Homo sapiens: one gene and its partners. The protein of the gene in region 1 interacts with the protein of each later gene in a pairwise test. Each region holds a gene or a part of one and is shown on either strand. Other genes may lie near its edges.

Region 1 (7,410 bases):
CAAGTGCTTAATAATACCAATGTTATTGCGTTTTGGATCTGGTAGCCTAAAGTCTCAACTCATAATGAGTCAATGTCTGGCTCAATAAGACACACACTGAAAGAAAATCACAGTATTGCCTCCAATGCAATAGTTACTACATCAATCAAAAAGAAATATCAAAAACTATTTCTTGCAGAGGCATAGTATAACATTCAAAAAATGATGGCTTAGAGTAAAAAGCATCTTTGGAGCATAAAGAGAATTTACATTTATTATCTATTAAGCACGTGTGAAGGTGGTGCCTTCTTTCACATGTTAGCTGTCCCCATTTCACCTATCAGGAAGGAGTCTCTAAGAAGTAAAATCATGGCCGGGTGCGGTGGCTCATGCCTGTAATCCCAGCATTTTGGAAGGCCAAGGTGGGTGGATCACTTGAGGTCAGGAGTTCGAGACCAACCTGGCCAACATGGTGAAACCACGTCTCTACTAAAAATACAAAAATTAGCCGGGTGTAGTGGTGGGCTCCTGTAATCCCAGCTACTCGGGAGGCTGAGGCAGGAGAATCGCTTGAACCCGGGAGGCGGAGGTTGCAGTGAGCTGAGACCACACCATTGCACTCCAGCCTGGGCAACAAGAGCGAAGAAACTCCATATCAAAAAAAAAAAAAAAAAGAAGTAGTAGTAGTAGTAGTAAAAGAATATGCCTAGGGCACAGCTAGCAAGTGACCAGTTAGAACTCAGGTTTGTCTGATTTTATACCCACTGCGTTCTGCACATCACTGTTGCCTGGTTTAACTGCAAACTTTGCTATGAGTTTCATTTACAATTTTAAAATAATAATTCTTACTATGTTTGGGGGTAAAAACCCTTGGGAGAAAATTCTAGGAGTGAAATTCTGACCTTTCTTTTTTTTTTTTGAGACAGAGTCTTGCTCTGTCACCCAGGCTGGAGCACAGTGACTCCATCTCTGCAACCTCTGCCTCCCAGGTTCGGGTGATTCTCCTGCCTCAGCCTCCCCAGTAGCTGGGATTACAGGCCTGCGCTACCACGCCCGGCTAATTTTTTTTTTTTTTTTTTTTTGTATGTTTAGTAGAGACAAGGTTTCACCATGTTGGCCAGGCTGGTCTCAAACTCCTGACCTCAAGTGATCCACCCACCTCAGCCTCCCAAAGTGCTGGGATTACAGGCATGAGCCACCGGGCCCGGCCTGACCTTTCACCTAAATATAGTTACGCTAAACTATAACCTTTTGATAAGGGTCTGGAATATTTTATCATGAACTCTGAGAAGTTTGGATTTCTAAATACAAATTGGAAATATTTACACGAACTGAAACTATAGTTCCAACTACAGCTAAATCGTTATTTTTGGCTCTTTAGCCTAAGTTATTCAATAACCAAACACTAGAATCCAGTGACAAAGTAGCAAAAGGAAAGATGTGGCAAAGGAAACCATTATACACCTATCCCTTGACGTTATGAAATGATCGAATTCATGTCAAACATTTGGTCATTCTGCTTATACCTTCGTTTGTGAACAGATGCCAGGCAGTAGTTACCAATCCAAGGTGAGGTGCTCAAGTTCAAAACCTGACCTTAGTTGTAAAAGTGGGGTTTTTATTTGAAAGAAAAACTTAACTTCCACAAGTTCTATTATAAAGAGTCTACAAATTTTCCTTTATTTAAAAAAAAAAACCCTGAATTTGAAAAAGGCAACCTTATTTATTTACTTCTCCTGTTTCCAAATTCTTGTTACTCCAAGAGTACAGACAGTTATTTACCTAAAATGCAAAACCTCCAAAGAGTTCACACGGTGGCTGGCACTCAGGCACACACATGTCAGTGCTCTACTGGGACACCTGGTACATGATATCCCTATTAAAGAGTACACAGTACCTTTAAAGAGGTCATTAAACAGAACACGGACAAATTTGCCACGCTCACATCCTGAACAATACATTTTGTGAAAAACATTCGCTAATTTAGGTTCTTCCAACCAGAAGAAAAAAAAAAGCCAAGTCTCCCACAAAGTGCCCCCAAATCCACAGCTGAGTGAAGGTCATAAAGAGTTAAATGAATGTAAACCAGGCCCTATCATTCGTCTCCTCCAGAAAAAGATGAAAAGACATTTCTGATGGCCCCAGGTGCTCTCCCACGAGGAGACAGTCTTTCATTTGAGGTTCTGAAGCGGCCTCACCTCGAACCCATGCGGGATCTTCCAAGAGTGCAATTCCCACAGCTCCACTTGCTCAAGGAAGTCTCGGTGCACAGAAGGAAGCCTGCAGCCTCCCAGTACCAAGAAACCGGCAGGGCAAGTGGCAGAAGCCAGCTCTCGGGTGAGAGTCCTTACTCCCTGTTGCATTCGTTCCCCAAAGTTTTCGAATTTTTAAAAAGTTCAAACAAGGATTCGAAGCGCAGGACAGACCCTTCCCCTGGATCCCAACGCCCTTTCGGCTCCTCCGCGGCCCCCGCCAGGCAGCGCCGGCGCCCGCCCGCGAGGAGGAGGGTCCCGCAGGTGGGCGGCCTCCTCAGGCCGGGGCCTTCTGGGACCCCCAAGTGCCGTGCAGGACGCCACGAAGTTGCGCCCGAGCCCGCGGGGTCCGGGGAGCCGCTGCCCGTGACAGCCGCGCTGGCTTGGGAGGCTCTTCGGGCGGCCGACGCCTCGGTGGGGCCGCGACTCCCGTCAGGGAAGCTCTCCCGGCCCGGTGCCGCCTCCTACGCCCGGCCCGAGCCTCCCACGGCTGGGCTCACGGGGCATCTGGCCGCCGCCGTCGCGCTCCCAGCTCGGACTCCAGCCCCGGCGCCGCGACGCTGCCCCGGCCCCGACCCGGCCGTCGCGAGCTGTCCTCCACCCCACGCTCCCCGGTCACTCACCCCGAGGCCGGGCAGCAGCAGCGTCAGCAGCAGCAGCAGCCGCCGGGCCGGCATGGCGAGGACTCGGCCCTGGCTCCGGGGGCGGTACGGACAGAGGACGGGGCGGGGGCGCCGCGACGACAGCGAGGCGGTGACCGAGCCTCAGCGGACGCAGAACTGACTAGGCAGCGGCGGCACCCCCATTCCCGGCCCTATAAGCGCTGGGTGCCGCGGCTTCTTCCGGTCGGGGCGGAGTTGCGGGCGGGGACGGGGCGGGGCCAATCTAGGGGCGTGTTCGGGGCGGAGATGGGGGCGGGCCGAGGGCGTGCCCCGGGCGGGGATGTGGGAGGGGCTGGCTCGGGGCGGGGCCGAAGGCGGTGCTGGCATCTGGCTGGCTTCGCTCATGAGGCGTCGGCGGCTGTAAAGGACCAGGCCTCGGCATCCAGCGTCTGGGGGCGCTGGGGGATCGAGGCGCGAAGCTTGTCTGTGGCTGGGAAAGACCGGCAATGCCCCACCAGGCCGTCCCATTAACCCTGCCGAGGGACCTGCCGCGTCAGACTTCATCGGGGAAAAGGGCGGGACACGGGCGGTCCCGGGTGCCTAGAAGCCTCCTTTTCGTCTTTCCGCCGTGGTGGAATCATCCGCAAGGTTTACCGAGGCGACCTCCGGAGCGAAGGTTTCAGCAGCTACCGGAGGCTTCCAGCAAACACGGCGCAGCTGCCCCGCGCGGCAGTCGCAGTGTTCACAGCCCTAGGGTTCTCCAGCTGTGCCTCGTCTTCTCTGGGGCCCCTTTCTTCCTTTTCCTTGCCCTCAGGAATTCCCCTCAAGTCATATCCACCAGCCATCACTTCCGCTTGGAATGAACCACGGCCAAGTCACTCACCAAAAATTATAAGGAGGAAACCATTTCGGCCACTTGTGTCACGTGCGTTGATGTGACACGTGTGGATGTGAAGTTTGAGATGGTCTGCGTCACAACTCGTTGGAGGGAGTGGGTGGGTTGAGGCCTCCTGCAAGGTCTATGTGAGGGTGTGGAGTACTAATTAGAGTTAAAGAGCTCGGCAGCTGTTTGGTCACTGGCACTGGCCTCCACTGAGAGGGACATGGGTAGGGAGGACACGTCTTTTGCAAGGAAAGACAGTAAACTGAGATTTGGAGCCCAGGGAAAGGTATCTAACTTATCCTAGGAGAAAAAGAAAACGGCTATGAAATTCTCTAATTTTTCCTGACTTGCTTATATGAGAGCCTAAGATTTTTCAGGTTTGAAGGAAAAGAATAAGCACTCCTAGACAAAACAACAAAGTAGTAGTGGGGGACTGGCCAAATGTCCAGTCTGTGTGCATTGTGGTCAATCTTATCCAACTAAAACAGACCAAAATGACAGTAAGCCCAAATCCTGCAAATAGAGCTCCCCATTCCTAACCCCCTAGGCCTGGATTACAGTGAAGGGACTAAGTCCTACCGCATGCTGGAGACTCCAACACATCTCTGTAAGAGTGGGAAGAATCTTGGCAACTGTGAAAACAGTAGAGACATTTTGAAAAGTGTTACCTGAATGTCTAAATGCAAACAGAGGTTTGGGATTGGCAGAGAGATGTACTGAGAGGCCCAGCACTCCTGAGCAGTATAGCCGGGCTTCCAGGGAGGCCTACAGCCCTGAAACTGGGAGGAGCTCTTTATTTCTTGACCTTTTATCTTTTCTTTTTAGAGATGAGGTCTCACGGTGTTGCCCAGGCTGCTCTCAAACTCCTGGGCTCAAGAGATCCTCCCCAGTAGCTGGGACTTCAGGTGTGCCCCACGACACCTGGCTTGGGAGGACCTCTTTAGTGATTACCTGTCCAGTTTGCCAGCTGACAACAGCATCTGTTAGACCCTGTATACTTGACTTAAAAGAGAAGCTTGACTGAAAAATGTCACTTTCACATCCCCCCCTCTGGTGCTTTTTCTCAAACAGAGTAAGTCTAGGAGGGGAAAATTTGCTGTACTGGAACTCTGGCAGCCCTTTTACAATTCAAAATGTCACTGTGACCCTGTAACATCAGCAGATGAAACACAAAGGGGAATGCTGACCTCAATTTCACTCATAAATCAGTTTTAAAGATCGTAGAAAGAAAAAAAATCTGTTCCAAGAAGCCTGGACAGTTAGGTATTATTTATCTTACACTCAGTTGGACCAAATCCCCAGGGCTTAATTGCACTGTTACATGTTCTCTGAATTTCTTTCTTTTTTTTTTTTTTTTGAGACAGAGTTTCACTCTTTTGCCCAGGCTAGAGTGCAGTGGCACGATCGTGGCTCACTGCAACCTCTGCCTTTTCGGTTTCAAGCGATTCTCCTGCCTGAGACTCCCGAGTAGCTGGGATTACAGGTGCCTGCCACCACGCCTGGCTAATTTTTGTATTTTTATAGAGACGGGGTTTCACCATGTTGGCCAGGCTGGTCTCGAACTCCTGACCTCGTGATCTGCCCACCTCCGCCTCCTAAAGTGCTGGGATTACAGGCGTGAGCCACTGTGCCCGGCCCCATTCTCTGAATTTCTTATGCATCGTCCACATGCTTCATGCACTTCTTCACTTGATTGGCAATCCAGACAGATAAGCACTGGTTTTATTTATGGTGGCATTGCCCATAATCTTGCTCTACAGTCAAGTACTTCTTTAGGCAGCTTTTTGCTTATGATAAAGTAAAAGCTGATAGCACTGATAAACACAAACAGAAATGGAATATTTTGTAGGGTGCCTTTGAAGTGGACCTGACCATATAAAAGACCTGCAAATGGGCAGTAAATGACCTTTCTGCAAGTCACATTAAATAACATCCACTGAATAAAGCAAAGGTCATGGTCTTAGTGTAAAGATAAGGCCTCTTTTCCACCAGTGTAAGAAACATATATACATCAGATTCAACAAAGAAGTACAGCAGGATCTGACTATGGGGAGGTGGGAGAAAATCTTATTTTCACTTCCCTTTAAACCACTGGTTCCCAAACTTGGAGAGCTAAAAAAACAAAACAAAACAACAACAACAAAAAACAGATTTCCAGGCCAGGCATGGTGGCTCACGCCTGTAATCCCAGCACTTTGGGAGGCCGAAGCAGGAGGATTGCTTGAGATCAAGACCAGCCTAGGGAACATGGTGAGACCCTGTTTCTGTAAAAAAAAAAAAACAAAAAACCAAAAAATTAGTCAGGCATAGTGGTTCACACCTGTAGTTCCAGTGACTTGGGAAGCTGAGGTGGGAGGATGGCTTGAGCCCAGGAGGTCAAGGCTGCAGTGAGCTTTGATCGTGCCATGGCACTCCAGCCTGGACGACAGAGCAAGACCCTGTCTCAAAAAAATAGAAATAAAAAGCTGGGCATGGTGGCTCACACCTGTAATCCCAGCACTTTGGGAGGACGAGGCAGGTGGATCACGAGGTCAGGAGTTCAAGACCAACCAGCCTGAGCAACATGGTGAAACCCTGTCTCTACTAAAAAAACAAAAATTAGCCGGGCGTGGTGGTGTGCGCCTGTAGTCCCAGCTACTTGGGAGGCTGAGGGAGAAAAATCTCTTGAACCCGGGAGGCAGAGGTTGCAGTGAGCCAAGACTGCGCCACTGCACTCCAGTCTGGGCGACAGAGTGAGACTCCATCTCAAAAAACAAACAAAAAAAAAGAAATTAAAAACATATTTCCAATAACTTCTTGTACCCCTTTCCCTGACTGATTCACAATGTCCAGGGGCAGAGCCCAGAGACCTGTGCGTTTTGCAGTTTCCACCGTACACTGAAGGCAGTCAAGATCCAGGGCTCCAGCTCAATCATGATGTCCAGCCTTCATCCCTGCAACCATGAATCCCTTTTAGTTTAGCAAATATCGCCCTCTAGTGTAATAAATTATGACCCAAAAAAGGAGCTTGTGCCTGTCTCATTTGTGTTTAAAACCCTTCAAAATCTCATTTAAAAATGCTTGTGAGGTTGATTTGCAGATAGCTAGTGACAGGATAGATACCTTTGAAGGCGGAGACTTGAAAGAAAAATCTAGTAAAACCAGAAAGAAAGGTCATGGTTGAAAACTCCAGTAACATTTCAAAGGAATAGTATCTTTATCAGAATAAATCAAGTCAGTTTTTTTGTTGTTGTTGTTTTTAGTGATATCGCTGCTGCTGCTTCTTGAACTGAACCTACAGAGTGTGTGGAAGTAGTTATGGGATAAATATTAATACAACCATAAAGGGGCAAGGCGCTGTGACTTACACCTGTAATCCCGCACTTTGGGAGGCTGAGGTGGCGGGTATCTTCAGCCTAAGAGTTTGAAACCAGTCTGGGCAACATAGTGACACTTTGTCCCTACAAAAAAATAAAATAATTAGCCAGGTGCCATGGTGCACACCTGTAGTCCCAGCTACTCTGGAAGCTGAGGTGAGAGGATTGCTTGAGCCTGAGAGGTGGAGGCTGCAGTGAGCTGTCATAGCACCACTGCACTCCAGCCTGGGCAGCAGAGCGAGACCCTGTCTCAAAACAAACAAACAAACAAACACAAAAAACAATGAAGCAAGAGTCTCTGATAGCAAGCTAAATTCTCATCTCCGTCCTCCCGTCAC
Region 2 (7,286 bases), on another chromosome or scaffold:
GGTCAGGAGTTCGAGACCAGCCTGACCAACATGGTGAAACCCTGACTCTACTAAAAACAAAAAACAAACAAAAAAAAAAAACAACAAAAATTAGCTGGGCATCATGGTGCATCCCTGTAATCCCAGCTACTCGGGAGGCTGAGGCAGGAGAATCACTTGAACTCGGTAGGCGCAGGTTGCAGTGAGCCAAGATTGTGCCACTGCACTCCAGCCTGGGAGACAGAGGGAGACTCAAAAAAAAAAAAAAAAAAAAGAAAAGAAAAGAAAAAAGAAAAAGAAAAGAATGTTCTCAGACACCACTTGAAATGTAGGCCTCTGCTAGAGAAATACACATGCTGTATTTGTTTGGTAGAGACTTTGTCCCAAGATCACTGCCCTCGCTGCCTCTGCCCTTGAGGCCTGACCATTTCTTTGGGATGACAGTAGTGTCAGCTGAAAATTGTATGATGTGATGTAGCTCAACAGAGCTACAAACAAGTGCTAATAATAGGGCCCAGAAGGAAAATCAACTGTCTAAAACACTTCAGTGGTTGACATTTGGGCTGTAACTTGAAAAATAAGCGAGATTCCGCCAGAAGGAGACATCCAAGTACAGGAAGCACATTTGAGGCCAGGGGACTCACATCCATTAGGACCTAAGTGCTCAGGCTCCAAAAGAATGCCGCCCTCGACTTCCAGAGCAGCGCAGCGTCTGGAGCTGGGGCACCTCTCCATTTCTTTGTATAGGACTGTCCACACTATGAACTGTGGACTTACCTGTCAACTGTGCAGTCTGGAGTGTAAAGTCTGTATTTTATTCAAGTGTAGACTCATCAACTCCCTCAATACCTTCAAAAATGCTCGGAAAGTGAGTGTGATTGGAAGGTAAGGATGTCTTAGGATAAGGCAGGAAAGGAAACACAGGGGGCTGGGCTGAAGACAGGCTGGGACTAGCGTGTGAAGGGTCTTCTTTCCACAGGAGAACTTGGACTTTATCCTCCTGGGCAGGCAACGGGGAGCCGGTGAAGGTCGCATTGCAGGAGGATGGTGATGAAGCTTTTTAAGGAAACATGTGCTGGCACTGTGAGTAATGGACTGTAGCAGAGACCAACCGCGACGCCACTGAATCAAACCAGGTGAGCAGTAACAACGGCAAAACCACTGGGGGGACGGGGAGAAGGAAAGAGTTTTTAGGTAGGATTGACAGAATTTGTAACCACTTGACATGGGAAATGAGGGAGTGTATCTGATCATGGTTTGAGAAATTTATACTAAAGTTTTAAAAAACTGATCTTGTCTAAGGAGAGATGCCATGAAAATGTATTTCATGTTATAACCTCACATCTCAAGGTGAAAATGGATGTTTCTTCTGAGACACAGGTTTGAAAAAAAGAAGATCATGAGGGAACAAAAAGCCCAGTTCTGATTGTTGGAAAGGATTACACAATACGAAGAGAAAGAAGAGATGGAATTCTTTTAGTTTTAGTTTTTTTCTTTTTCTTTTTTTGAGACAGGGTCTCGCTCTGTCACCCAGGCTGGAATGCGGTGGCACAATCACAGCTCACTGCAGCCTCAACCTCAAGCGATCCTCCCACCTCAGCCTCCTGAGTAGCTGGAACCACAGCCATGCACCACATGCCCGGCTACTTTTGTATAATTTTTTAAAGAAATGGGGCTTTGACATATTGCCCAGACTGGTCTTGAACTCTTGGCCTTGGGCGATCTGCCTGCCTTGGCCTCCTAAAGTGCTGGGATTACAGGCATGAGCCACTGAACCCATCCCATTACTTTCTTTTGTAATAGGTAAGACATAGATGTCTGCTGGAATGTAGACATAGACAAAAAAGATTGAAGTTTAACCTACCAGCCGGGAACGGTGGCTCACGCCTGTAATCCCAGCACTTAGGGAGGCTGAGGCAGGCGGATCACGAGGTCAGGAGATCAAGACCATTCTGGCTAACACGGTGAAACCCCATCTCTACTAAAAATACAAAAAATTAGCTGGGCGTGGTGGCATGCGGCTGTAGTCTCAGCTACTCCGGAGGCTGAGGCAGGAGAATCACTTGAACCCGGGAGACTGAGGTTGCAGTGAGCCGAGATTATGCCACGGCACTCCAGCCGGGGTGACAGAGGGAGAGTCAGTCTCAAAAAAAAAAAAAAGTTTAACCTACCAATTTTGGGGCAGAATTCCTAGACTTATACCACATCAATGGCCCTAGCAATGTTATGAACCAAGAGTAAGCTCCTGTAGGTTATCCGTGGAGGTAAAGGAACCAGGCACCTAAGCAAGGACACTATGGCCTACTGGTCAGGGCAGGTTGTCCAGGTAAGCAAGTTTTCTGAAATATGTACATGCTTTTAATATTAAAGGAAATGTGTCTTATGTCGTTAAATGTTCTTTAAAAACATTACTATGAATATAATTATTTAACTTGCAAATTCCCTTAAAGCTAGGATGCAACAAGGTTTCACAAAGAAGGCACCCAACCTTGATGTCAACAGTCTACCCACTATGGGAAGCCGGAGAGGCTTTCTTCCAAAATGCAGAATTGTCAGCATTTGAACGCTGAGTACGAAAAATTATAAGCACAGGCTGGGTACACCGGCTCCCATCTCTAATCCCAGATTTTGGGGGCCCGAGACAGCACTCTGAGCTCAGAGTGCAGACCTGCATAGAGCAAGACCCTGTATCAAAAAACAAAATTAAAAAAGCAGTTGTAAGCACAGGTACACGGTTAACCATGAATATGGTATCCCTGAAAAGCCGTTTTAATGGGGGAACAAACCTAAAATTTGGAATAATTGATAATATGTGTATATGTAGCCAATCAGAGCAGAAACCAGAAAATCAGGCAGCAAGCTTAAGGGAAACGCAACATACTTTGTTTGGTTTCCTTTTCTTCCATAAACTGATCAGGGGTAGGTAGAGTATGCTGCTATAGTTCGGAGTCGTCACCATCCTCACGGAAACGGCAGGAGTGTGAACACCTCCCTGAGCTACCAAGAGCATCTGACTCGTTGCAACGTGGGCCCGAACCCAGCGCCTCTAGGAAACGTGGGGCCGGGGCCTTTTGGTCCCGGGTGTGGGTTGGGGGTTTGGGGAAGGGCCGGGGCCTTGATCCCAGGTGTGGGGTTGGGGATTCCGGGGCTGAGCCGAGGCCTTGGTTAGGGGTGTGGGGCGGGGGTTCGGGGCAGTGCCGGGGCCTTGGTCCCGGGTGTGGGGTTGGGACTTCGGGGCCGGGACCTTCGTCTCAGGTGTGGGGCGGGAGTTCGGGACAGGGCTGGGGCCTGGGTCCCTGGTGGGGCGTTCGGGGCAGTGCCGGGGCCTTGGTCCCGGGTGTGGGGTGGGAGTTTGGGGCAGGGCCGGGGCCTGGGTCCCGGGTGGGGCGTTCGGGGCAGGGCCGGGGCCTTGGTCCCGGGTGTGGGGTGGGAGTTTGGGGCAGGGCCGGGGCCTGGGTCCCCGGTGGGGCCTTCGGGGCAGGGCCGGGGCCTTGGTCCCGGGTGTGGGGTGGGAGTTCTGGGCAGGGCCGGGGCCTTGGTCCCGGGTGTGGGGTGGGAGTTCTGGGCAGGGCCGGGGCCTTGGTCCCGGGGGTGGGGTGAGGGGTTCGGGGCAGGGCCGGGGCCTTGGTCCCGGGTGTGGGGTGGGAGTTCGGGGCAGGGCCGGGGCCTGGGTCCCGGGTGTGGGGTGAGGTGTTCCGGGCAGGGCCGGGACCTTGATCCCAGCTGTGGGGTGGGAGTTCGGGGAAGGGCCAGGGCGTGTCCTGGGTGGCCAGGGTCGGGGCCTGGGTCCTGGGGGTGGGATGAGGGGTTCGGGGCAGGGCCGGGGCCTTGGTCCAGGGTCTGGGGACAGGCTAGGGCCGGGGTCGCCATCCGTCCTGGGCGGCGGGCAGGGGTCTTTAAGGGGCGCACGCGGTGGCGGAGGACCAGGGCCCAGCCCTCCGGAAGTCAGGGCCCACACGGCCCCCCAGCGTCAGGCGCTCCGGTCGCGCCGGGGACGGCGGGCGGGGCGGGCGGGGCGGGCGGGGCGGACGTGCGGCGTGCGCGGGGCGGGGCGATGTGCGCGCACGCGCCAATCGCAAGGCCGCGAGCAGGGTGTACGCGCGGAGAGGCCAAGAAGGCGGCGGGGCGGGCCGAGCGTCGGGTGCGCCCAATCAGCGCGCCGCAACACCATGACGTGAGGCTCTCCCGGGGCTGAGCGCCAGTCCGCGGGACCGGCGGGTGAGTGCGCGAGTTCAGGGCGCGAGGCGCGGGTCCGCGCGGGGGCGGGACTTCCGCAGGGCCCCGGAAGTGGGAGCTGTGTGTTCTCATGCGAACGGGAAGGAGCGTTGGGGATCTGGAGTCCCGGGGTTGAGACATTTTCGGGCCCGAAAGGGGAAGAATCCGCCGCCGCCGCCGCCGCCAGCTCGCGCCCGCCCTCTCCCCTACCTCCGGCCCGGCCCGGCCCGGCCGCGCCGCCTCTCCCTGCCGTCTCTCTCCTCGCCGTCCCCGCGTGTGGCGCGGCCGCCGGGCCCCGGGGTTGAGGCGAGGAGCCCGCGGGCGGCCGGTCGGGCGGGGCGGCGGCGCTGACAGGTGAGGCACCCTGGGCCGCGGCGGGCCGTCCCTCCCGGCCCAGCTCGGACCCGCGCCGCGCCGCCTGTCACTGCGCCGCCATCTTCCCGGAGGACGCGGCCGCGGCGGGCAGGGCCGGGCCTGGGCCGGGGCCGGGGCCGGGGCAGGGGAAGGCCGGGGCCGGGTTGAGGAGGACCGGGGCTAGGGCACGGGAAGGGCCAGGGCTGAGGAGGACCGGGGTCAGGGCCAGGAAAAAGCCGGGGCTGAGGAGGACCGGGGCCGGGGCAGGGGAAAACTGGGGCTGAGGATGGCCGAGGCCGGGGCAGGGGAAGGCCGGGGCCGGGGCTTAGGAGGACCCGTTGAGGCGAGGCGGGAGTCGACGGAGCTGGGTGCCCGGAAGACCGGGCCGGGGTCAGGGTCGGGAGGCCGGGGTTGGGCGAAGGCCGGCGAGGACGGGGGTCGGGCAGGGCCTGGGCGGGGCCGGGGTCGCGGGCCGCGAGCGCCCCCAGGCCGGGCGGGCGCCGGCACCCGCAGTGCGGCGCCAGCCTTGCCACTCGCTCCTCGGTCCCGCCGGAGCCCGGATAGGCGGCCGTGCGGGTGCGGGGCGGGACGGGTCATCAGGGCATCGCATTCCTTTAGAACCAGGAAGTTGGGATCCTGTTGCTCGGTGTGTGTTTGGAACGCTCCTGTTTTCCTGTTGATAGACTTGAGCAGAGGTGGATCTGAAGGAGTTAAAAAAATAAAGTCAGATGTGAAGATTGCCTGTGTTGGTCTTGGGGCTGGGATACATGGGCGGCAGAGAAGCCATCGGAAAGCTGCTGCACCTGCCTCTCAGGGTGCGCTTGGGAACGTGAAGAGTCTTTCCGTTTCAGTGCCGTTGTGCGTCGAAACTTCATGCGAATGTAATTTTGCTTTTCCCCTTATTTTTACGTAAAACGTTCTTAAAACTTGGCTGAGATGAAACTTGAGAAACCTAGCTGTAGAAAACTACCTCCTATCTGGCTTTCGTTTGAGATTCTCTAAGTGGATGCCCAATAACTTGTCTTAATAGTAAATTGGAAGTTTGAAGTTTTGGATAACTGAGAAAACAGGAAGGTTTTCCTTGACAGGGCAGTGGAGTTTGTAAGTATAAACAGTATGCGTGAGGCCTTTTTCTAGAGATGAGAGCAACTCCAAGGTGAACATTGAAGGGGACAGACAAGTTATTTTCCCTTTCGAAAGTTTTTTTCTCTTAGTTTCAGTTGTTTGAATATTTAAATGCACTTGAAATAGGTGCTGAGTTGTAGTTTGTGAAGACCACAGTGGGGAAGAGTGGTGTCCTCTTTTTTCTTGGTGGTCAGGTGGTGTGTGCAGTGTGCAATTTCCATACTTCCCCAACCTGCCTGGCGCCCCTCATTACAGTCAGGGTAATTTACAGAAGTTGAAATCGTTGTGGCTTTTCAGTTTTTTCTCCTTGTATTTAATATGCTGAAAGGCAGTTTTGTAATCAAACCATATAAGAAATAGCTTAATTGAGGTTTGCTAAGTGAAATGCGTTCCGAAAGGCATCAGATTAACAAGCTTATTATTTAATCATAAATTTAATTTGTGTACTTATCTTTGAAACTTGCATTGGTTAGAAATAAATTTTATCCGGTATTTTGAAAAGTTAATGTGAGTTGAGTTGACTTATTTATATGAAACAAAGGCATGGCTTATTCATTAGAAGTTACCCTCGTGTTGCCTACATTTTCTCAATTGTAACAGGGGGATGATGATAATCTCATTTTCTTAGGACTGTTGTAACACAAACATGGAAATGTTGTCTGGTTTTGCTATTTTCACTATTACTGATTTTTTTCTTCCCCCCCCGAGTTGGAGTCTTGTTCTGTCACCCAGGATGGAGTGCAGTGACACGATCTCAACTCACTACAACCTCCACCTCCTAGGTCTTCAAGTTATTCTCCTGCCTCAGCCCCCCGAGTAGCTGGGATTTACAGGCACATGCCACCACACCTGGCTAATTTTTGTATTTTTAGTAGAGACGGGGTTTCAGCATGTTGCCCAGGCTGGTCTCGAACTCCTGGCCTCAAGTGATCCACCTGCCTTGGCCTCTCAAAGTGTTGGGATTACAGGAGTGAGCCACTGCGCCCAGCTTACTGAATTTTTAAAATATTCTACCTTGTAGCTGTCAATCTATTAGCAGAAAGTTTTGTTTTTGTTTTTGTTTTTTTGTTTTGTTTTTTTTGGCTTGTTTACACATGTATCTGGGCAGAGAAAACAGCTTCTGAGCACAGAATGCATATTTGGAGAAAGCAGTTCCACTCTTTTTGAGTAGGAACCAGACAGAAAAAAAGATAACATGGGTACTATTCTGTAGAAGAGTAGCTGAAATTAAGTGGCAGCAAATTCAGGGAGAAATGTAATTTGGTTTAATGTTCGGGAAGATTGCCATTTTTAAAAGTGAGATTTAAAGAATTTATTGAATTTAATGCAATTTCCATAAGTAAGCACAAGTTTTGACAAGTATATATTTAAGGTGTTTTTATGAAGCAGTCTTCACATTATCTTAAAATGTAGTTCTAAAATACGTGCAGGCTGGGTGAGGTGGCTCATTCCTGTAATCCCAGCACTTTGGGAGGCCTAGGTGAGTTTAGGAGCCCAGGAGTTCACCAGCCTGGGCAACATAGAGAGACCTCATCTCTACCAAAAAATCAAAAAATTAGCCAGGCATGGTGGCTCACACCTGTAGTCCAGCTGTTGGAGAAGCTGAAGTGGGA
Region 3 (7,023 bases), on another chromosome or scaffold:
ATCCCAGCACTTTAGGAGGCCAATGTGGGCAGATCACTTGAGGTCAGGAGTTCAAGACCAGCCTGGTCAATAGGGCAAAACTCCGTCTCTACTAAAAATACAAAAATTACCTGGGCACTGTGGCACGCACCTGTAATCCCAGCTGCTCGGGAGGCTGAGGCAAGAGAATCGCTTGAACCCGGGAGGCAGAGGTTGCAGTGAGCAGAGATCGTGCCACTGCACTCCAGCCTGGGTGACAGAGCAAGACTCCATCTCAAAAATAAATAAATAATAAATAAATAAATAAATAAAGATGTGGCGGGGCAGAGGAAGTATAAAACATGAAGGAATGAACACATCAATTCAGGCCAGTAGTCATTTCTTGAGAAAGAGGAAGGAGGAAAGGATGCAGGGTGGAACTTCAGCTATATCTATAACATTTAATATTTTAAAGGGAGTAAGACATCTAACAAATATGACAAAATGTTAATGTCCATCAAGTTGGGGTTGTAGACTCAAAATTGCCTGAGTTTTTCCCCTGAACTTTTCTAAATGTTTGAAATATCTCATTATGCAAAATTGTAAAATTAATAAAGGGCCAGGTGATTTGATGAATAGAGGAGTCAACACAAAAACAGTCAGGAGCAGAATGGTTTCCCAAAACTATAAGGAGATATCTGACTTGTTCAGTTTTAGACTGAAGAGGAGCCTTCACATCCCTCAAACAGCAGCGCTTAGAACAGGGTAGAGTGAGGACTGACAAAAATGGACAAGAAGGTTTATTGCCATCTCAAATCAGATAGCAGAGGGGAGTGAAAAACCACCTTCCCACATAATTTAAATGCTAGTGTAACCAAGTTATCTCCCCTAAAACAGCCAAGAAAGCTTCCAGTTACACAGGAATTCAGATAAGTACTCACTGTGAGTAGCTATTCTGTGCCTCCTTTCTACCCACCCCTTCCTTCTCCCAAATACTCACAAACAAAAACAAAATGTACCCTTGCCCACTTGAGAAAGAATTAAGACTTGGCAGCTCTGCTTAAGTGGACAGCTTCCAAACCAAGGCCCTTCTCTGGGGAAGATGCTGACAGAGCCCAGAGAAAAGAATTTAAAAATCACAACTCAGACAAGTTTTGAGGAAGGCCTATCAATGGAAGGTATCCATCCTTCCACACGTCCTTAAGTCCCAATTTCTCCCAGGGGAATCTAAGGACTTAGAGGATGCCCTCTACCCTGTTCTGTTCTCCTCCAGCAAAAGTGACTAAAACACAAAATCCAAACTCTCACTTAGCACTTTAAAACCAAACAATTTCCCTCCACAAAAATCCAATGAAAATGAAAATACAGGGAAGATGCAGAATCTGAGTATTTAATATTTTAAAGAGAGTAAGACATCTAAAACAAATATGACAAAATGTTAATGTCCATCAAATTTGGGATGTAGGCTCAAAATTGTTTCTGTTTGGGTTTTTTCCCTGAACTTTTCTAAATTTTGTTTAGATATTCTTTTTTTTTTAGATAAATATACTTTTAATCAGTGCCCAATTTATCATAGCTTATTTAACAAGTTTCAGTGGCACAAATAAAACTAAGTTTAAAAGAAAACAACTTAAAGGGAGCTTAGTGGCAGAGATAAAGACATGCAACAAAACAAATACCTTGACATTCTTCTACATCTGAATCACTACAGCTGAAAAATCCTAACACCTCATTCAGCCCAGTCCAGGGCACCGAACTGCCCCTCTTCCCAATGGTACTCTCAGGGAACATCTTTCTCAGTCAGACCTAGGAAAATACCTCTATTCACTTTGGACTGGTTAAAAAAAGACGGTAGAATGGAATGATGTTAAGTCCTTCTATCTGCTAGTACAATGCAATGTGGCAGAATGACACAAACACTGAAATGGGACTTGGGAGAGAAGAGAGAGGTGAATTCACCTTTATTAATCACCTAGTACATGCTGAAGACTGAATTCTAGACTAAGCTATCACAGAACCACTTCTGTGATCCTGAGTAAACCTCAGGTATTCTATTTGAAAATGAATGAGGAAAACTAAGAAAGCATCGCAGCCCCGCCAGTTGTCTGATTCCATGAATCTGTAAATATGATCACTCTCAATAAATGTGTTCAGTATAATGAAGTTATTGAAAGGAATTCTGCTTTCTCCATCTCCAATCCACCCTACACACCACTGACATAATCTTTCTAGGATGTGAAACGTATTAAATGGCTCCTGATATACTGCAGTATAAGATAAAGCTCCAGGCCGGGCGTGGTGGCTCTCGCCTGTAATCCCAGCACTTTGGGAGGCCGAGGCGGGCGGATCGCGAGGTCAGGAGATCAAGACCATCCTGGCTAACATGGTGAAACCCCGCCTCCACTAAAAATACAAAAAATTAGCCGGGCATGGTGGCGGGCGCCTGTAGTCCCAGCAACTCGGGAGGCTGAGGCAGGAGAATGGCGTGAACCCGGGAGGCGGAGCTTGCAGTGAGCTGAGATTGTGCCACTGCACTCCAGCCTGGGTGACAGAGCAAGACTCTGTCTCAAAAAAAAAAAAAAAAAGATAAAAACTCTGTATGATCCAGCGTTGCCTACCTCTTCAGCCTGCCCTCCATCCCATCCTCCAGCCATAATGATTAAGTAAAAGTTACCTGAAGAAGTCTGGCCTTCATTCCTTTAAGCTTTTGTTCATGGTATTTTCTCAGACTGGAATGTAATTCTTGTCATCTGTAGAGTATATCCTTAATTCATCTTTCAAGACTCAGCTCAAATGCTAACTCCTCAGGGAGGCTCTTTCCAACCTCAGCATGCCCAAGGCAGAACTGACCCTTGGGCTCCCACTCTCCCTGCTGCATACTTCTATCACAGCATCTATCACACTTCATTCTATCTATATATTTACATATCTGTCTCCTCCCACTAGACCCATACGCTCCTCGTGGGTTCCTTGTCTCCCTTACCTCCATCTCAGTGCCTAGGATGGTGTTTACAAGATAGGAGACATGTTTAGGTTTAGACGTGTTTAGGTTTATCAGTACCATTTTCTTTGCCCTTCTGCTCTTTCCCTAAACTTTAGTCCTCAGAGAGCTTATTAATTCTCTTGGCTACAGCTACCACATCTAGGCCATGAATTGCAAAACTGCATTTCCAAACCTACCCCCATCTTTACTCCAGCTCACACCCAGGACAGCCTTCATTTGGACATTTCATTGCCACTTTAAATCCAACACATCGCAAATTATACTCATCATATTTCCCCAAAATGAGGAAAGCTTCCTAACTTCTTTATTTCACTCAATGTCTCAGACACCCAGGCACAACGTGTCACAGTTGTAGTTGACTCATCACCCTTCTTCATCTCCCACATCCACCCCTCATTAATTTCCATTTTTCCTTCACAGTCTCTTTTTCACTCTTTCCTCTCCTTAGCCTACCCTCCACAACTCTAACTCGGGCCTCATCACTTCACACACCCCCAGTGTCAATCTCCATTCCCTCCCAGCCAACCTGTGTATTAGTATCATCATACTGCTATTCTATTCAAAAATCTTCTACCATTTAAAATATAAAGTTGACCGGGCACGGTGGCTCATGCCTGTCATCCCAGCACTTTGGGAAGCTAAGGTGGGCGGATCACTTGAGGTCAGGAGTTTGAGACCAGCCTGGCCAACATGGTGAAATCCTGTCTCTACTAAAAATACAAAAATTAGCTGGGCATGCTGGTGCACGCCTGTAATCCCAGCTACTCAGGAGGCTGAGGCACGAGAATCACTTGAACCCAGGAGGCGGAGGTTGCAGTCAGCCAAGATTGTGTCACTGCACTCCAGCCTGAGCTGGACAACAGAGCAAGACCCTGTCTCAAAAAAATAAATAAATAAATACATAAATAAATAAATAAATAAATTTTATATATATATATAAACTTATAAGCCTAGCTTTTTAACACCCTCTATAAACATAGCTCCAAACCAACCTACCCACCTTCATTTCACTACTGCTCACTGCCACTCAGGTTAGTCTCCTCACCGCCCCAAGAACATCTCAGGTATAGTCCTGTTTCCAGGCTTTCGCTTGATCCCTTTCAGCTCCAATATGAAATGTTTTGTTATCCTCTTCATCTTCATCCCTTGTACCTAATACAATAACACTTATTCATTTATTTTTTTATTTATTTTGGAGACAGAGTCTTGCTCTGTCACCCAGGCTGGAGTGCAGTGGTGCTATCTCGGCTGTTTGCAACCTCCATCTCCTGGGTTCAAGTGATTCTCCTGCCTCAGCCTCCTGAGTAGCTGGGATTACAGGCGTGAGCCACTGTGCCTGGCCTATTTTTTTATTAAGATCTGAAATGAGTTATAATTCCTCTGTGACATAACTACCTGAGTACTCCTCTCCCCAAATACCTACGGTATGAGGTCTGCACTATGCAACTAACAATATAGTTTCACATTTTAAAATTTTGTGTGGCATATTAAGAGGCTCAGCAAGTATTCATTCCTTTTTATTCTTCTTACTCCCAACTGGACTGTAAACTCTTCAAGGACACAAAGTTGTCATTTTTCCTAATCCTCCATAGCACCTAGCAAAGAATTAAACTCATAGTGGGTCACTACAAATAACAGTTTAGTAATTTTCTTATCTACAGCTATTTCTTAGAGGAAATAAAGGGCTAAGGTATAATCCTAAAAAAAGCACAGTTGAAAATAATCCCTATCTAGTTGTATAAAATAAGATTCCTGACTTTTCCACCTGATTTCTAGCTCAGAAATACTACAATCTCCTGACTCAAGAAGTAAATAATAATCCTGTGCTCGTGACATCAGTTTGGTAATGATTATAAAGAGGTGGGGGAGAGTGGCAGGGATGGAGAAAAGCAAGTCAACTGGAGAAGAAAAAAAAGGGATGAAAGAATGGCATGTGATTTTGTTTACTTCTTAAATGTGGACACTTCTGCCCATTCCTTTTTTTTTTAATTGGACATACTTTCAAACAACTTTCCTACAGGAGGAAAAGTCTGACAGATTTTCAATGAAGCTGATATCTGGAAGAGCCTCTACAAAGCACAAGTCCTTTGAGAAAGCCGGCTTAATCTTCAACAACACAACATAATGTAGTGGCATTCGTCCAGATACTGTGAATGAAGGCTCATTCTGGCTGGAACACAAGCATCACCTGCCAGTCATTCTCAGACATAAGACAGACAGCCTAGGAGGCCACATTGGATCCATACAGATTTTGAAAAGAAATTGGTCTATCAACATATTCAGTGTAGTCTAGTCTTAATTATCTACAAATGGATTATTCATTTTACGGATTTCTAAGGCCAAATCTTTAATGCAAGAATGACTGTTCTTCATCATCAGTGTACTCTCCCCACCATCAGGTAATATAAGCTTAGAAATGCAAATTTATTTCAATATTAGTATGATCCCCAAAAATGAAAATAAATCTAGTTTAAAAAATAATGTATTTTCGGCCCGGCACACTGGCTCACGCCTGTAATCCCAGCACTTTGGGAGGCCGAGTCAGGCGGATCACGAGGTCAGGAGATCAAGACCATCCTGGCTAACACGGTGAAACCCCGTCTCTACTAAAAATACAAAAAATTAACCGGGCGTGGTGGTGGGCGCCTGTAGTCCCAGCTACTCGGGAGGCTGAGGCAGGACAATGGCATGAACCTGGGAGGCAGAGCTTGCAGTAAGCTGAGATTGCGCCACTGTACTTCAGTCTGGGAGCAAAGTTGTCATTTTTCCTAAACCTCCATAGCACCTAGCAAAGAATTAAACTCATAGTGGGTCACTACAAATAACAGTTTAGTAATTTTTCTTATCTAAAACTATTTCTTAGAGGAAATAAAGGGATAAGGTATAATCCTAAAAAAAACACAGTTGAAAATAACCAGGAAATGTCTTTGTTAAGTTCTGAATTACCTACAACAGTGCTCCCTACATTAGCAGAGACAACTGAGAGTTAAATGCACTTGAAACATAATGCTGTCCTTACTATAAGCTCTTGAGGAGAATCCGGCCATAGTCTTGAGACTTCCCCACAGGTTGGTGCACTACGAGACAGGAACAAGCAGGCTCAGCATAGTAAGGTGTGTAAACACAAAAACTTCTACAAGGAATCTTATGCCTCCTGGCTGTATCCCTTCAGGTTAGGATGGTACAGAAAATAAGAGTCACAATGTACGGATGCCTGCCTGATTCCTTGTCCCTGAGTTCCTGAACCAAAGGGCTCAATATTTCTCATTAAATCCGTCCTTTGTTCAAGGACCTACAATGATTCTATTGACCCTTCTATCAACACCCAACAGAGTCTGGCTTCTGAGTCCCCTCCACCCTCTTGCCTGCTCTACTCATGACTTGCCCAACCCACATTCTCTACAGTCACTCTCATATATTCCCCCCACTCACAACTTAGTCATTCATATCATCATTGCACACTGTACATTCTATACTTTCTGTTTGGAAGATCCTTTCTTTTCTTTTATTCCCAACACAGTAACTATTTCATTTACTTGAATGCTCACATTTTACAGATAAGGAAAAGAAGTTAACTTGTCCAAGGTCACATGGTAAAAAATAGCCGCAAGGTCTGAACGAAGACCCATCTAACTCAATAGCCCATACCTCTTTATGACTCATCCATAGCCTCCCAAGTCCATTTCAAAATTTACTGACTCAGAAATCTCCCCAATTTATTTCACTGATTCTTACTTTGTTACTTTAAGTCTTCTCAGCCCTTACATACTTATCAGCACGTTAAATTTGCTTTTGTCTATATGTTGTTTCCTAAATGTTAAAGCTCATAATAGTCTGCCTTCCCATATTTATACACCACCTTTCCCATCCACCCTCAACCCCAAGAGCAAAGACACATGTCTTTACATCTTTTATACCTCCCTAAAGCCTGTCACTGGAGCATGGAGACTGCTTTATCCAGAGAAGTGTTCAATCATTACTCAGCAAGGATGTCTTATTTAAAAACAAACAAACAACTCTCTTCTATTATATTAAAAAGTCAACTGAATTCAGGCATTCAT
Region 4 (7,023 bases), on another chromosome or scaffold:
CCTGCCTGCAGATCATTTACATATATCCAAGGCATTTCAGAATCAGATCAGAAATGAGACCACCCTCCAAATGCCAATCCTGCCAACCGTCCTGTCTCTACTGTCTCCCCTCCTTACCCTTGGTGCCTCATGCAGGGAACATCATCGGCTCTGGAATCTTTGTCTCGCCAAAGGGAGTGCTGGAGAATGCTGGTTCTGTGGGCCTTGCTCTCATCGTCTGGATTGTGACGGGCTTCATCACAGTTGTGGGAGCCCTCTGCTATGCTGAACTCGGGGTCACCATCCCCAAATCTGGAGGTGACTACTCCTATGTCAAGGACATCTTCGGAGGACTGGCTGGGTAAGAGGATCTGTGGAGACCTGAATGGTCTAGGGGAAAAGGAGGAAGACATTCAGAAGGAGGTCAGATTGGAAAAAGCCAAGGCCAGGGGTTTCCAGTCTCCAGTGTGCCACGGGGTGCTAGTGAATGGAATGTCTCTTCTGCTTTCCTGCCATGGTTGCTAGTGTAGCCTTGTATCCCCTTGAGGCTCCCGATAATGATGGAGGACCAGGTTTGTAGTTTTGACCTCTATGTTGATCTTAGTGGGAAGGAGTCTATGAGTGAGAGCAAACAGAACTGTGTAACAACACTGACCATAGATTCCCAGAGAAAGCACATCACAAAAACAACGCCCTTCTATCTTGACAAATGAGAGTGGCCAGCTAAGGTAGAGTGCACCCTCTTCTCACACTACCAAGGATAATGGCCTCCCTCTAGAGCTGGGCCCTAATCTTAAATTTCCTCAATTTCTGCATCCCTGCCATTGGTAAACCCTCACCAATGGGCCAAAAGGTGTGGAAGGCGCTTCCCCTGCAAACCCCCACTTGATACCTCTCCTGATTATTGCTTACGTAACCACACCCTTAGTATGTCCTGTCTATCAACATTCTGGGGTTGCAAATTTTGTTTTTCCACCATTGGATGCTGGTGGCCACAGTGATGGAGAAGAGATCATGAAAGGAGAGGAGAGAAAGGAAGAACGCCAAGACTTGTGTTAGTGCTTGTGGAAATTTAACTCTTCATTAAACCATTTTATTGTCACTGCAGAGGGCTGGGTGTCTCATTTGTGGGTGGGGGCAGAGGCTGGGCTCTTCAGCATCCTTGAAAATAAAAAAGAGATGCATGACTTGCCCGGGCTCTCCCCTGATGGCTCTGCGTCCCTGCCATGCCTTTCGGCGGATGTCCCTTTCCTCCTTCAGGTTCCTGAGGCTGTGGATTGCTGTGCTGGTGATCTACCCCACCAACCAGGCTGTCATCGCCCTCACCTTCTCCAACTACGTGCTGCAGCCGCTCTTCCCCACCTGCTTCCCCCCAGAGTCTGGCCTTCGGCTCCTGGCTGCCATCTGCTTATGTAAGTGTCATCTGGGTCTTGGTAGCAAGACAGCCTCTTTTATTATATTTATTATTATTATTTTTAGAAACAGAGTCTTCACTCTGTCACTCAGGCTGGAGCGCAGCCGCATGATCATAGCTCACTGCAGCCTTGAACTCCTGGGCTCAAGTGATCCTCCTGCCTCGGCCTCCCAAAGTGTTGTGGTTACAGGTGTGAGCCACTGCACCCAGTCTGAGGGACAGCCTCTTTTATCCTCCCTGGAGGTCTACATGTCTCTGACTCTCCTAACTTCTCTCCATTTTTTTTTTTTTGAGGCAGGGTCTCACTCTGTCACCCAGGCTGGAGTGCAGTGGCGTGATCTCCACTCACTGCAACCTCCATCTCCCAGATTCAAGTGATTCTCCCACCTCAGACTCCCGAGTTGCTGGGATTGCAGGCGTGAGCCACCATGCCCGGCTAATTTTTGTATTTTTTGTAGAGATGGGGTTTCACCCTGTTGGCCAGGCTGGTTTTGAACTCCTGACCTCAAGTGATCCGCCCGCCTTGGCCTCCCAAAGTGCTGGGATTACAGGCCTGACCCACCTCACCCTGCCTCCTTTTCTTTTCCCCATTACTTTTCTTTCAATTTCCTACAAGTGTGTTTTTTATGAATGGATTCTGCATACAATTGTCTGGTGTTAAAAAAAAAAAAAGAAAGAAACTTAAGTAGCTCCTTGGAGGCACTATGATTTTCACTGGCAGGGTTCTTGACATTACGCAAAGCACTTTCACCTATATTATCTGATTTGGGCCTAATGACAAGTCCATGAGGTAAGCTGGGCCAGTGTTAACATTTTCCCAGAACAGATAAGGAAACAGAGAGCCAGGCAAATGACTTGCCCAGGGAGGCAGGCCACGTGGAGTGCAAGGGCTCCTGATTTCTTGTCTGTCCAGTGCACTGCACTGTGCTGGCTACTCCCAGCTGCTCCTAGGAAGATTACTCTGGCTTCTTGGCAGTAGGTCCACATCTACTTCTACCTCAACTTGTCAAGTCACACTCTTTTAACTCTCTTGGAGAAGGGTTTGTCCATGATCCCTGCCCTTGATGAGTTTTCTAACTAGGAGAAAAGCCATATAGACAGATACTGTGGTTAGGATTCAATTGCAGTAAAAATTCAGAGAAGGGAGCTAGGCATGGTGGTGTACACCTGTAGTTCCAGCTACCTGGGAGGCTGAGGTAGGAGGGTCGATTGACCCTGGGAGTTCTGGGCCACAGTGAGCTATGATTACACCTATGAATAGCCACTGCACTCCAGCCTGGGCAACATAGTGAGATCCTGTCTCTAAAAAAAAAAAAGAAATTAAAAACAACAATAACAATAAAATTCAGAGAAGGGGAAAAGATCTCTGTGGGCTGGAATAGGTTAGAGAGGCTTCCTAGAGAAGTTCTGCAGAGCCGTATTTCTAGGAAGTCTCAAAGCTTTATCTCTGATATTAGTCATCTCAATGGATTGGGGTATTTTACATCTTTAATCAAAAACTAATTTCTAAAGTAAATACTTAGATATGTTTCAGGGGCTCCACCTCTAGGGTTCACTGGGTCCCTGCCTTCCCATAGCTTCTAACACACATACACTTAGCTGAGGGCAGTGATCATCCTGGCCATATGCTTTCCCAGGTCCTGACACTTTTCCTTCTGTCCTGTTACGGGATGGGGGAGGAAGAGATCACTCACCCACCTCAGTAGCCTCTTACAGGGCAGGCAGCTGGGACCCAAGAGGCGGTCTCCTTGGCAAGTGAGCCCTCTTTGGCAGTGCTGGTCAACCCTGGGACAGACCTCCACCACCCAGGCCATTTGCAATATGGGGCCAAGACATTTGTTTGGGGGTGTATTCCTTGTGTTTGATCAGGCCTGCTCACAGATCTGGAGGCAGAGGAATGCAGGCTCCAAAACCAGGCTGCCTGCGCCTGCATCTCCAGTCCACCATTTCTAACTGCAGTGGTGAGTGCTGGGCAAAATCACTCGTCCACCCTACTGTGAGATGGGGAGTGTAATCCTAGCTGCCTCAAGAGGTCGTGGTCACAAGGACTGCAAGAGAGAAGGAAGGGGACACCCTCAGCACAGTGTTAGACACCCAGCACCCCAGTCATATCAGTCACTGGGGGTGGGCAAGATGCTGGGGCCACTTTATCCTTGCATCCTAGCTGGATCCAGAGTTGAGATGGGGAGCGGGGAAGAGCGAGGGCGTGGGAATGCAGGAAGAGTGCTGTTTCTGCCATCAGATCAGCTAATGGGAGGGTGGGAGGCAAGGCCACAGAAGTGCTAGCTACTGCTGTTTTGGTGTTTCTTTGCACACAGACAGCTTCCTTTTTCCTGCTGATGCTGCTAAAGTGTCTCAGACAAGAGGCCACCCTTACCCTTCTACTAGAAATCAAGAACCCCCGAGGCTGTTCAGTTTGCACCCTAGGAGAGGAGCCAGGCCACAGGTTGAAGAAGTTCCCAGGCAGCCAGACCCCATGGCTTTCTTTGCATTCCCCAAATCTGCCAAGGGTTTGACCTCTTGCACAAAGACCCTCCAAAGTAGTGTAGCCTTTTTGGCGTCCCCTCGGACCAGAAAGGTCCAAACTCTCCTAGGAGATAAGAACGCCACCTGCCTGTAGCCCTGCTCCAGAATGACATGTTGCACAGTCCTCTCCACAGCCTTCCCCTCACCTAGACACTGCAAGGACCAAGCCAAGGAGAAATTTAGAAACTGGCTGATGACAAAAATGACAAGACCCCCCTCCTCTATTCCTGTAGTCAAAGATTCAATAAAGCTTATCTAAGTTTGGCCTCTGCCTTCTCAGCAGAACTGCAAGGAAATTATCTCCAACTTAACAGTAGCCAATCTTGTCCTCTAAAGACAGGAATTTTCAATGTCCTTGAAATATGGGTTCAAATATTTGTCTACCTTCATAAGCAGAAAAATCTTAAATCCTTCTTATTCCCAAGCGTAGTCTTCCTTATTTCCTTTAGGGGAAATGGAAACCAGCTCCACACCTGTCCCGCTGCAGTGTCCCTTTCCTCCTAGCTGTGAAGGCCATGTGGAGCTGCCATCCCTCTGCCCGGCAGGGTGCACACGTACATGCATTAGCTATAACAAACTTCCTCTCTCCCTTTCCTTATACCTGACACTCCCAGCTGCTTTGAGTCTGTGTACAGAGGTTCTGTTTTCCGGTTTGTTGAATACTTTTTTTTTTTAATCCACTTCTATAGGCCCCTCAAATCCTCTCTTCTTTTTTTGAATTTTATGGCAGGCCATACCAGATAAGCATCCAATCCTCTCATACGGTATTCAGTAAAACAAGAACCAAGCTGTCAGGAAGGCTTGGTAGATGCTTTTTTTTTTTTTTTTTTTAGATGGAGTCTCACTCTGTCACCCAGGCTGGAGTGTAGTGGCGCCATCTTGGCTCACTGCAACCTCCGCCTCCCGGGTTCAAGCGATTCTCCTGCCTCAGCCTTCCAGGTTGCTGGGATTACAGGCATAAGCCACCATGCCCAGCTAATTTTGTATTTTTAGTAGAGATGGGGTTTCCCCAAGTTGGTCAGACTGGTCTCAAACTCCTGACCTCAAGTGATCCACCCGCCTCAGCCTCCCAAAGTGAGGCCACTGCGCCCGACTGGTAGACGCTATCTTTCATTAAATGCTGGTACTTTTTATTCCAGCACCCCTCCCACCCACCCACCTACCCCCACCATCATCCAGCCCTCCTCATCCTCTTAGCAGGGGCCAGGCAAGCCAGCTACATAAAATAAGCCCAGCCTGTGTCTCTTTTGAGAGACGCAGTAGAGAGTTCCGGTGTGGCGTAAACATATGCACATGGGGAACTCTGCTTCCTGCTGTCCTGTGGCGACATGCTGATGACTGTGAAGCGAGAGGTTTTGAGGAAAGGCCACCCTCTGTGGAGAGGTCATTGGTGTATAATGGAGGGCACTGGAGGACAGGGCACAGGGCCCAGCAGGGAGAGCCTGTGTGGTAAAGCCCGTGGCGAGGGTTTGCTGGGGGAGGGAGGAGATGAGGCCAAGTCTGGTTCCATGGTGGGGCTGTTTTGGAGGAGAACTGATGAGAAATGAAGTTGGGAGGAGCCAGGTGGTGGGGGTGGAGAGGTGGAAAGAACCTGCTGAAACTGGCTTGCCTGCCGGATCCTGAGCGGGTCGGGGAGAGGAGAGGGAGAGGGAAGGAACTGCAGACTTGGATCACACTTATGCAACTGCAGCTGCCACTTCGAGTTATTCTATTATTTAGGTCAAAGCTGATTACTCACTGCTGAGTCAGCAGAATATCCCTAGCCACCCAGCAGTAAAAAAAGAAAAGAAAAAAAAGAGAGAGAGAGAGAGAAAGTATTTTACATTTTAATTAAATAAAAAGCCTTTCTCTCTTCTCCAGAACAAGTATATTAGTGGGAGTGGAGGGAGTTAGGAGGGGACTGGGAAGTGTTAGAACTTGGTTTTGATACCTTTTGTGATCTGCTTGTGTGTTTTTCTCCTTTTGTATTATTTCATGAGTAAATGACTATATTCCCCATATAAAAGATCCAAGTAAGATATAGAGCCAGCAGCGATAGCCGCCCTTATCATCAGCCGCTGGCCAGTAGCTGCAGTCCTAGTGGATAGTTCTAAATAAAGTGCATCTATTACTGTACAACTCTGGCTGCATGGACCTATGTACTGACAGGTTATTCCTACAGCGTGCCCTTTTTTTTTTTTTTTTTTAAGACGGAGTCTCCCTCCGTCACCCAGGCTGGAGTGCAGTGGCGCGATCTCGGCTCACTGCAAGCTCTGCCTCCCGGGTTCACGCCATTCTCCTGCCTCAGCCTCCCGAGTAGCTGGGACTATAGGCGCCCGCCACCACGTCCGGCTAATTTTTTGTGTTTTTAGTACAGACAGCGTTTCACCTTGTTAGCCAGAATGGTCTCGATCTCCTGACCTCGTGATCCACCCGCCTTGGCCTCCCAAAGTGCTGGGATTACAGCTGTGAGCCACCCCCACCCGGCCTACAGCTTGCCGTTTTATCCTGTAGCCACATCTTTTGGCTGTTACCTGGGTCTCTAGTTGTAAACAAAGCATCCACAATGATCCAGAGGAAGCACTGGGTCCAGGGGACACCCTTTCCCAGGCTTCCATCTGTGCATCTGTGCAACTCTGCATTTTCCTTTGGGATCCGTTTGCTCCCCATTCTCTTGGAGACTGGATCACCTTTCATTCAGTCCCCTCCTGGCCTCCTTCCTCTCATTTGGGGTTGGAGTCATGTCCAGCACCTGAAGTGGAATCAATTCTTTTTATTCAAGTTCCCCACTTCTCCCTGAATGTCTTGACCTAAAGAAGTTCCTTCTCCTTCCTCACCCTCAGGAGAAAGAAATATCCTGTATGCATCTCTCAAGGAAAAAATGCTTCTAATCTTGTTTTCTATCTTTCTACTGAGATTCCTAAGAGGCTAGCTTTTTCCAGGGCTTCAGATAGCTCTTCTTCCTTGAGCTATTTGGAAAGGAAAGGACTTCATGTGTTGCTTCAAACTCCTGAGTTGCTTTGCAATTCCTCTGCAGAAAGCCTCCAACTGCCTGGTGCAGAATGCTGTCACAGAGAAACTCGTGAGTTGTTTTGCAAGTCTCTTGCAAATTTAATCAATCCCTT

The links.
Region 2: the proteins of ERN1 (region 1) and LARP4B interact in binary tests that used the Homo sapiens proteins (3 or more experiments, as listed by UniProt).
Region 3: the proteins of ERN1 (region 1) and OTUD7B interact in binary tests that used the Homo sapiens proteins (3 or more experiments, as listed by UniProt).
Region 4: the proteins of ERN1 (region 1) and SLC7A8 interact in binary tests that used the Homo sapiens proteins (3 or more experiments, as listed by UniProt).

What each region holds. Positions count from the first base shown.
Region 1 is NC_000017.11:64,127,122-64,134,531, forward strand, and holds the start of ERN1 (serine/threonine-protein kinase/endoribonuclease IRE1 precursor), read right to left. Parts: upstream 3,024-7,410; 5' UTR 2,909-3,023; coding exon 2,855-2,908; intron 1-2,854. UniProt on the Homo sapiens protein: Serine/threonine-protein kinase and endoribonuclease that acts as a key sensor for the endoplasmic reticulum unfolded protein response (UPR).
Region 2 is NC_000010.11:928,690-935,975, reverse strand, and holds the start of LARP4B (la-related protein 4B), read left to right. Parts: upstream 1-4,270; 5' UTR 4,271-4,548; intron 4,549-7,286. Other genes in the region: keratinocyte proline-rich protein-like, read right to left, coding at 3,145-3,849. UniProt on the Homo sapiens protein: Stimulates mRNA translation.
Region 3 is NC_000001.11:150,000,724-150,007,746, forward strand, and holds part of OTUD7B (OTU domain-containing protein 7B), read right to left. Parts: exon of another isoform or gene 5,982-7,023; intron 1-5,981. UniProt on the Homo sapiens protein: Negative regulator of the non-canonical NF-kappa-B pathway that acts by mediating deubiquitination of TRAF3, an inhibitor of the NF-kappa-B pathway, thereby acting as a negative regulator of B-cell responses.
Region 4 is NC_000014.9:23,159,653-23,166,675, reverse strand, and holds part of SLC7A8 (large neutral amino acids transporter small subunit 2), read left to right. Parts: intron 1-135; coding exon 136-340; intron 341-1,239; coding exon 1,240-1,391; intron 1,392-7,023. UniProt on the Homo sapiens protein: Associates with SLC3A2 to form a functional heterodimeric complex that translocates small and large neutral amino acids with broad specificity and a stoichiometry of 1:1.